3 separate regions of the Homo sapiens genome follow, and regions 2 and 3 are each linked to region 1. Evidence: fine-mapped expression QTL. A gene starts in region 1. Each other region holds a variant in brackets. All regions are shown on one strand. Distances are from middle to middle.

Region 1 (2,764 bases):
GTGGCCAGCATGGAGTAGAGTGTCAGGAAAGGTGGATGGAGGCAGAGTGTGGCCAGCACAGCCATCTCTACTCCTTTTTGTTTGTTTGTTTGTTTGTTTTTGAGACAGAGTCTCACTGTGTCACCCAGGATGGAGTGCAATGCCGCTATCTCGGCTACCTGCAACCTCCGCCTCCCGGGTTCAAGCGATTCTCTTGCCTCCGCCTCCCAAGTAGCTGGGACTACAGGTACACTACCACACCCGGCTGATTTTTTTTTTTTTTTAGTAGAGATGGGGTTTCACCGTGTTAGCCAGGATGGTCTCGGTGTCCTGACCTCATAATCCGCCCGTCTCGCCCTCCCAAAGTGCTGGGGTTACAGGCGTGAGCCACCGCGACGGGCCGCCATCCCTACCGTTTACAGACAGCGTCCATCTCACTGGTGGGTCCCTATGCAGTCCAACTTGCTCCACGTCTGAATGTCAGTCCTAGATACAAAGCAGAGAAGTTTAAAGTAGGGAATGGCTTCTTTTTTCCTTTTACAAAACATAATGATGGTAAGACACAATATTGGAGCTGGGATGAAGGAGAAGTAGATATAAAGATATGGAGGGGCATCCCTTAAGGGATATAAATAGTTTCACAGATGAAATGCCTAAAGGAGAGAGAGGAGAGACAGATGAGGAGACAATTATCTCAAAGGAGGAAAATGGTCAAAAGGCAAAGAATAATGTGTGTGAACTCTCCGGTGCATGGTAAGTACTATAAATATCTTAGTTGTACTAGTGTTAGTCAATCAAGTATTTGTAGTTGCTGTTCCTACAACGATTTTAACTGCTACTGTAACTACTCTCACTGCTATTAAGACAACTATTATAACTATTGTTATAACTACTACGTCTGCTAGTACAATAACTACTATTATGACTGCTACCACAGCTACTATTACTGCTGTCATGGGATCCTTGAGGTGTCGTTTCATCAGCCAGAAACCTCTGTTGCTGGCAGCACCTTCTGCCTGAGTATTGCTCGTGCCCACTGGGCTTGTTCCGCCCACTTGGCCCGGTAGGCTGTGCTTGGCTCCCGCCACCAGCCCAGATCCCACACCTGCCCAGGGAGAGCTAGGCGCGGAGCCGCAAGGGGTGTGTGGGTGAACGAGCGCAGGGACCGGCAACAGCCATACATACCGGCTGCTGCAGTGGGGCTGGCAGCTCCAGGCGCCAGCACAGTTGTGGCTCTGCGTGAGGCTGGACCAGATGGACGGCATGTGGATTCTGCTGTGGGCACCTGTTTGGATGAAGGGAACGAAGGTGGTGGCGCCTGGAAGCTTGAAGATGCCAGGAACCATAGAACCCCAAAGGGAGTGTCACAGCCCTGGCTCAGGGAGACCCTAGGTCTGGGATCCTCAAAGGAACACAGCTCTTTTCTCCTTCTCGTCACCCGCAATGTGGCAAGCAAGGGAGCGTGTTTCAGCCCTGTTTGTGTTAAAGCTCTTTTAGTACCTCCAGGCGGGTCCTGAGTTCTTGTCCTGCGTCCAGGGAGATGAGGTATTGCGGACAAATGGAGGCTTAGCAAGATGGAGAAGAGCTTTATTGAGTGGCAGAACAGCTCTCAGTAGACCTGAAGCAGGTAGCTCCTTTCTGCAGGAAGGTTGTCTCTCCTTTCCGCAGGAAGGTTGTCCCAACAAGTTGAGAAGACGCACAGTGGGCAGCTCCTTCCCGCAGCTGGTACTTCCGACTTCGCGTGACTCCGGCTGCGTCCGGGGAGCGGGGTTTTTATGGGTTCAGAAGGGAGGAAGTGCATGCTGATTGGTCCATGGGTGGCCATGGGCGGGCCTGGAAAAAGAACCATTAGTGCTCACTCCAGGCCACAGACTCCGACCGGAACTGACAGCGCGGCCTCCAGGATTGAAGCCATCCCTGGCTTGAAGGTGGGGCTTCACTGGGACCCGTCCCTTTCTGTCCAGTAGCCTGTCTTCCTTTTGCTGCCATCAACGTGCCCTCCACAGCACCCAGGCTGTTCGTTTTGAAGGGCGCCTCTAGGCCTGAGCCCAGCAGCCCACAGCGCCTCCTCGCCTCTCTCCCGTGCTCATCAGTGCCCAAAGTCCAGAGGGGGCTGAGGAGGCAGGGGGCTGGTGTAACAGCGCCTCCCTGAGCATGCGCACGCCTGGCCAGGTTGCAGCAGCACCCAGGCTTGGCCATCACTTTGCTCCAAAATTGAAGTGGGCACAGGGAGCAGGCAGAGGCCAGGAATGGGAGCAAGCAGGCACTGCTGAACCTGTGGGGTCAGGGGCTTCCTGGCCCCCCGAAAGCACAGGGATGCCTGGGTCTGCGGCGGCAGCTCTGCAGCTGTGCCCCTAGCACGGGTTCCCCACCCTTTAGCTCGGTAGGGGGCGGGACCCCTGCCTGTTCCCAGCTCCCCCCGCCCCGGCCCTCCACCCACCCTGGCTTTGCTGAGTGCGCAGCTCTGGCGGCACCTCCCCTGGTGCAGCCGGTGTCTTTGCAGCGGCCGCTCCAGACAGGTGGCCGGTGCCATCACTGCTGCTACTACAATTACTATTGTGACTACTTCTGTAACTATGGTCATTCTATTTTATAGGGTTGTTATGAAAGTCACTATATGTAAAGCTCATACATATGTGCTTGGCACACTGTATGCCCGTAATAACTCTACAGCATGTCTATGTGTCTATTTTTATTTATGTATTTTTCTTTTCTTTCTTCTTCTCTTTCTTCCTTCTTGTTTTTTGTTTTTTGTTTTTGTTTGTTTGAGAAATACAGGGTCTCA
Region 2 (2,764 bases), 200 kb after region 1:
ATTGGTTTGCACTTTCATCACATCTGATTAATAGTATCACTCAGTCTTCCCAGGATCAGATTATCCCAACTTCCGCATAGAAAACCTGAGTTTTATGCGCCTATGCTTGTTAACACTCTTCACCTTCTATCTGGCAGGAGTAATTGTAGATATTTATTTGCATATAAATAATAGTTGAAAGGAGTCTTACAGATACTCTGTATTTTCTCTATTTTAAAAAGCCTTTTTTTTTTTCTTTTTTGTAAAGGTTTAACAACACAAAGAGCCAATCTGTGATAATAAGACAGGCATTTCTTTATTCAGGAAAAAATGTATAGAAGACACAATTCGTCTCAAAGTGAAATAGAGATTTATGGTACATATTATAGAAAGTGAGGGTAAAAACAATGGCAAACATTACATGACTCATTCACTTTGAAACATCTTTCTTCCTACTTTTAATGCTATTAAGGGACTAGAATTGTATTCCTTTCCAGATCCTATCTAGGAGTTATAGGGGAAGCCATATCCTTGAAAAGAGACAGTGAATACATGAAAATCTGCTTTGTGTACATCTCTGGAATATTAATATTTGACACAGACAATGGATCTTTCTTCAAATTCAGATAAAATGCTATGCAAACAGAGCTTCCATACAAGTCTAAGAATAGCTCCCACCATAACCCCATCAGATTACCATCCTCAGTGTATTTTATATAGACTTGCTAGGGCTCTAACTGAAAACCAAAAATACTGGGGGAATCAAAAAATCTAGAACTATATTTTAAAGTTTTAATGGAGATAATTTCTATATAGAAATACAAATTGCCGGAATTAACACAAGAGATATTTTTAAATGTAGAGATGAATAAGAATAAAAGAAATCATTTTACAACTTAAATTGTCCCAGGAGGTAGCAGAAGAAGAAAACTTGCAGACAACTTTTACAACACTGCAATAATGCTGATAACAAAACTTAATATATACTGTCAGGTGAAGAAAGGTTACAGTACATCATATCCCTGATTGGGTGATTATTTTACTAGTATACAAAAAAGAAACATCAGAAAGAAAGATATATCATTGGGGTTCACATCTGAAATGTAAAGATATGCAGGATCTAACTCCAGAAATTCTGATTCAGTTGGTTCAGGATCTGACTCAGACACATGGGAGATGCTAATGTACAGCCATGTTGGAGACTACTGGGATAGTTGGTCTGATTCAAAGTCACGTTATATATTTTTTAAAGGCAAAGGATTATTTTAAAAATGAAATTATCACATAAAAATTAAATCATAGGGAAGCATTTGCTAACACATCATTAAAGCCCGAAAGTCTAAAAGAAAAAAAATTGCTCCATTTGACTATATAAAAATTGTTTTATTCGTCAAAGAAAAATCGCCATTGACAAAGATTTAGTAGCCCTGAAATATAAATATAAAAGATTCTTATGAATAAATCAGAGGAAGATCAAAATCCCAACTTATGTTGGAAAAAAATGAAGAGCAAAGAACCTGCAGTTGTATTTTATATTAAAATATACAAATGGTCATTAAATATACAAAAGTCTCT[TAC/T]ACACACACACACCAGTAGTAGAAGCAATGCAAAATAAAATAACAATAGGTAGCATTTTTTTTGAGACAGGAGTTTCGCTCTTGTCGTCCAGGCTGGAGTGCAATGGCACGATCTCAGCTCACTGAAACCTCCGCCTCCCAGGTTCAAGGGTTCTCCTGCCTCAGCCTCCTGAGTATCTGGGATTAGAGGAGCCCGCCACCATACTGAGCTATTTTTTGTATTTTTAGTAGAGACGGGGTTTCACCATGTTGGCCAGGCTGGTCTCGAACTCCTGACCTCAAGTGATCTTCCCAAAGTGCTGGGACTACAGGCGTGAGCCACCTCTCCTGGTCATAGGTAGCATTTTTAATGGAATAATGAAATTGTAAAGTAAAATGATTAAGAACATGGGCTTAAGGTTTGCAACTTCATTCTACCATTTACTAGCTACACGGTCCACAGGCAAGTTATTCAACTTCTCTGTTTTGTCATCAGTAAAAGGATTGTTGTAAGGATGAAATAAGTTTTCATATATGTAGTACCTATAACAGTACCCAGCCCACGGTAAGTGCCATTTAGCATTTTCTGTTGCTCACGCAAACGTTAAAAGCTTACTATTGTTGGCGAGAGTAAGGGGAAATATTCTCCTCGTGTGCTAGGGGTTAAACAAAGTCATACATTTATACTGAAGCACTAATTTATTCATTTATTTAATGATGATTTATTGGGTAACTTGCGTGCAACAGGGACTCCTCTGAACAGTGAGTAGTCCATAGTGAAGAGTGAACAAACAGATGAAGTACTTGATCTTATAATTTTTTTTTTTTTTTTTTTGAGACAAGGTCTCACTCCATCCCTCAGGCTGGAGTACAGTGGCATGATCTCGGCTCAGTGCAGCCTCGGCCTCCTGGGTTCAGGGAATTCTCCCACCTCAGCCTTCCAAGTAGCTTGGACTGCAGACACAAGTCACAATACCAGGCTAATATTTGGTGTTTTTGTAGAGAAAGGGTTTCACCATGTTGCCCAGGCTGGTCTGGAACTCCTGAGCCCAAGGTATCTCCAGCCACTTTATCCTCCCAAAGTTCTGGGATTACGGGGGTGAACCACCATGCTTATATTCTAATGGGTAGTAAGTAAATGTTTACATAGGTAATATAATAAAAGAATTATAAGGGTTATAAAGAAAAACAAAGAATAGGGAGATAGAGAGTGACAGAGGTAAAATGGT
Region 3 (2,764 bases), 720 kb before region 1:
GTAATTTATGAAGAAAAGAGGTTTATTTGGCTCACGGTTCTGCAGGCTGTACAAGAAGCGTAGCATAGGCATCTGCTTCTGGCGAGGGCCTCAGGAAGCTTCCACTCAAGGCAGAAGGTGAAGGGGGAGCTGGTGTGTGCAGATCACATGATGAGAGAGGAAGCAAGAGCAAGGGAAAAGGTGCCAGGCTTGTTTTAACAACCAGCTCTCAAGGGGACTCTTTTGGGGCCTAATAGAGCAGGAACTCTCCCTTGTTACTATGAGGATAGCACATGCTGTTCATGAGAGATCCACCCCTGTGATCGAACAGCTCCTACTAGGCTCCACCTTCAAGATCGGGGATGAAATTTCAACATGAGGTTTGGAGGGTCAAATATCCAATCATAGCAGGATTGGAATGCATAATGGTGATTCTGGAAGTCTTTTAGGGAGAAATGCATCTGACAAGCAGGAGCAGTTTGTCACTGATATGCCTGGTCTTCCTAAAATGCTGATGCTGCTACTGCAACTACCACCTCCACCAGCACCATCTTAATCTCCTCTTCCATAGTTCCCATCACCACATCCCTCTACCACCACCACTGCCACCATTACCACCTTCACTCTCATTACCACCTTCAGTGCCATCATCTTTGCCACCATCACCACACCACAACAGCCATCACCACCATTACCATTTACTGAACCCTTGTGACGTGGTAGACACCATGCTAGAGGTTTTTAAAGGGTTTAATCTTCATGATACTCCTACATAGTAGAAATTACTAGTCCTATTTTGCAGTGGAGGGAACTGAGGCTCAGAAAAGTTAAGAATTTGCTCAAGATGACATAGTAGAAAGCTGTAGAGCCAGGATTTCAACCAGGTTCATTTGCTCTTCCAGTAGACAAGGAGGAGTGGCTCAGAAAGCTGTGCTGTTGGACACAGGCATATGTTGTGGGCTTGTTTTATGTACGTCTGGGCCACATTGTTTGGGTCTGAGAGACTCTTGTGGGCTATGACCAGCACTGACAATCTGTTTTCCCTTATTTTTTCTGACTTTCTTTCACACATTCTAGATCATATGGCTTTTCTGGTCAGAACAAATGAAAATGTTTTATGTCCTCCCTTTTCTGAGCTTTGGATGTTACTGTTTG[T/C]ACACAGTTCTGGAAGCAGATGGAGCCTGATAGAAATCCCAGATGATAACTCAGACTCAAAAGCTCCTTGCAAATGCCCACGTAGCATAAATACCCTTGAGCATATGAGAGACAGTGACAGAGACTGAAAGACAGACAGAGAGACAGGGACAGAGAGAGACAGAGACAGAGAGACAGAAAGAGAGACAGAGATAGACAGAAACAGAAATAGAGACAGAGACAAAGAGACAGAGATAGAGACAGAGACAGAAAGGCACAGAGGGATAAGAGAGATGGAGACAGAGATAGAAAGAGACAGAGAAAGAGATAGACAGAGACAGAAACAGAGACAGAGAGAGGGCTGCAGAAAACTCATCTTTGCCTGCAATGCCTGCTCCAGCCAGATATCAACACGGAGGGCTCCCCACCAACATTCTGATAGATTCTGAACTACAAGCTTCCAGAATATTAGCAGCTGAGCTCCTCCGCCCTGGGAGGAGATAGAGACAGAGAGAAAGATAGAGACACAGAGGGAGAGGCAGAGATACAGATGTGGAGAGAGAGAGACGGAGATGCAGAGAGAGAGAAATAGAGACACAGACAGAGAGATAGAGACAGATACAGAGAGAAATATATAGAGACAGAAACAGAGAGAGGCCAAGAGATAGAAACAGAGAGACAGAGAGAAAGAGGTAGAGACACAAAGAGAGACAGAGATATAGAGTTGAAGAGACAGAGGGAGACCAAGGGGCAGAGAGAGAGAGTGTGTGCCTGATGGCGCTGTTGGTCCTTTGTATTTTGGGGTCTAGGGGTGCCAGGAGTACCTTGGGCCTTCCGTGACCTTTGCTTCACATCTCCTCAGGTATGAGTGAGTTGAGCAGGGGGCTGCCTTTGCCCTGCGAGAACCGTGCTGAGCACTTTCTAATGCCTGGCCTCTTGGTAATGGCACATCTGCCTCCTGACAGAATCCAGAAGCCCGAGTCAGGTGCCTCCAAAAGGGTCCCAGTTCATTGCTGGGTGCACAGTGTGAGCTTCTGCTCCATCTAGGCATGGGAAGAAAGCCTCCCCTGAAGCTGTTACTCCAAAAGTCAATTCCCCTTGCATTTAAATGGAAGCTCAGAGCACTGTGCTAAAATCACCAGCAGTTAAATTGAATTGGAGCTTGATTAGGGTTCTGACCTACAATAAATCACCTGGGAAACAGCTTTTTGGTGGCATATTTGGCCCGAGGGGGAGGAGCTCAGCTGCTAATATTCTGGAAGCTTGTAGCTCAGAATCTATCAGAATGTTGGTGTGGAGCCCACTGTGTTAATATCCGGCTGGAGTAGGCATTGCGGGCAAAGATGAGTTTTCTGCAGCCCTCCTGTGAATTTCCTGACAGAACTTCTCTCTCACCTCCTGTTTGCCTCATCTTAGCTTTCATCTCTTCTTCTTCACTCTGCCTAAGCCCTGGGAGGTAGCCCAGCGCCATCTGAGAAGGTGGTGGGGCACGCAAAGGGCATAGCCTGCGTCTTTTATTTCGCCTCCACCTCCATGACTACGGCCAAGTCATTCACTTCTTGGATCCTCATTTACAAATTGAAAATACTGGTAGCCTTCCTGTCTGTCTTGCAGGGGTGTTTGAAGGACAGGAAGAAATAACAGTAATAAA

Which allele goes with the higher level. Alleles are on the strand shown, and positions count from the first base shown. SD is a standard deviation of normalised expression in the study named.
For the expression in sigmoid colon of the gene that starts at base 1,728 in region 1, allele T in region 2 goes with a lower level than allele TAC (small effect, 0.25 SD a copy in GTEx).
For the expression in prefrontal cortex of the gene that starts at base 1,728 in region 1, allele T in region 3 goes with a higher level than allele C (moderate effect, 0.47 SD a copy in CommonMind).

Evidence for each region. PIP is the estimated chance that this variant, and not a neighbour inherited with it, causes the effect.
Region 2: its variant is the best candidate, but not a certain one, in a credible set for the expression of LINC01579 in sigmoid colon (GTEx, PIP 0.73).
Region 3: its variant is the best candidate, but not a certain one, in a credible set for the expression of LINC01579 in prefrontal cortex (CommonMind, PIP 0.89).

Annotation. Positions count from the first base shown.
Region 1 is chr15:93,898,872-93,901,635 of GRCh38, forward strand. LINC01579 (long intergenic non-protein coding RNA 1579) reads right to left here and starts at 1,728. Exons shown (of 4, transcript NR_138083.1): 1 at 1,480-1,728; 2 at 1,165-1,264; 3 at 393-465. LINC01580 (long intergenic non-protein coding RNA 1580) reads left to right here and starts at 1,830. Exons shown (of 3, transcript NR_120323.1): 1 at 1,830-1,907.
Region 2 is chr15:94,094,116-94,096,879 of GRCh38, forward strand. The region is part of intron 1 of LINC01581 (long intergenic non-protein coding RNA 1581); the gene reads right to left. The region is part of intron 1 of LOC105369203 (a long non-coding RNA gene); the gene reads right to left. Among named protein-coding and RNA genes, the nearest start is that of LINC01581, 12 kb to the right of the region's middle. The variant TAC/T (reference allele first, on the strand shown) is at 1,555.
Region 3 is chr15:93,173,991-93,176,754 of GRCh38, forward strand. No RefSeq gene overlaps it. Among named protein-coding and RNA genes, the nearest start is that of RGMA, 86 kb to the left of the region's middle. The variant T/C (reference allele first, on the strand shown) is at 1,135.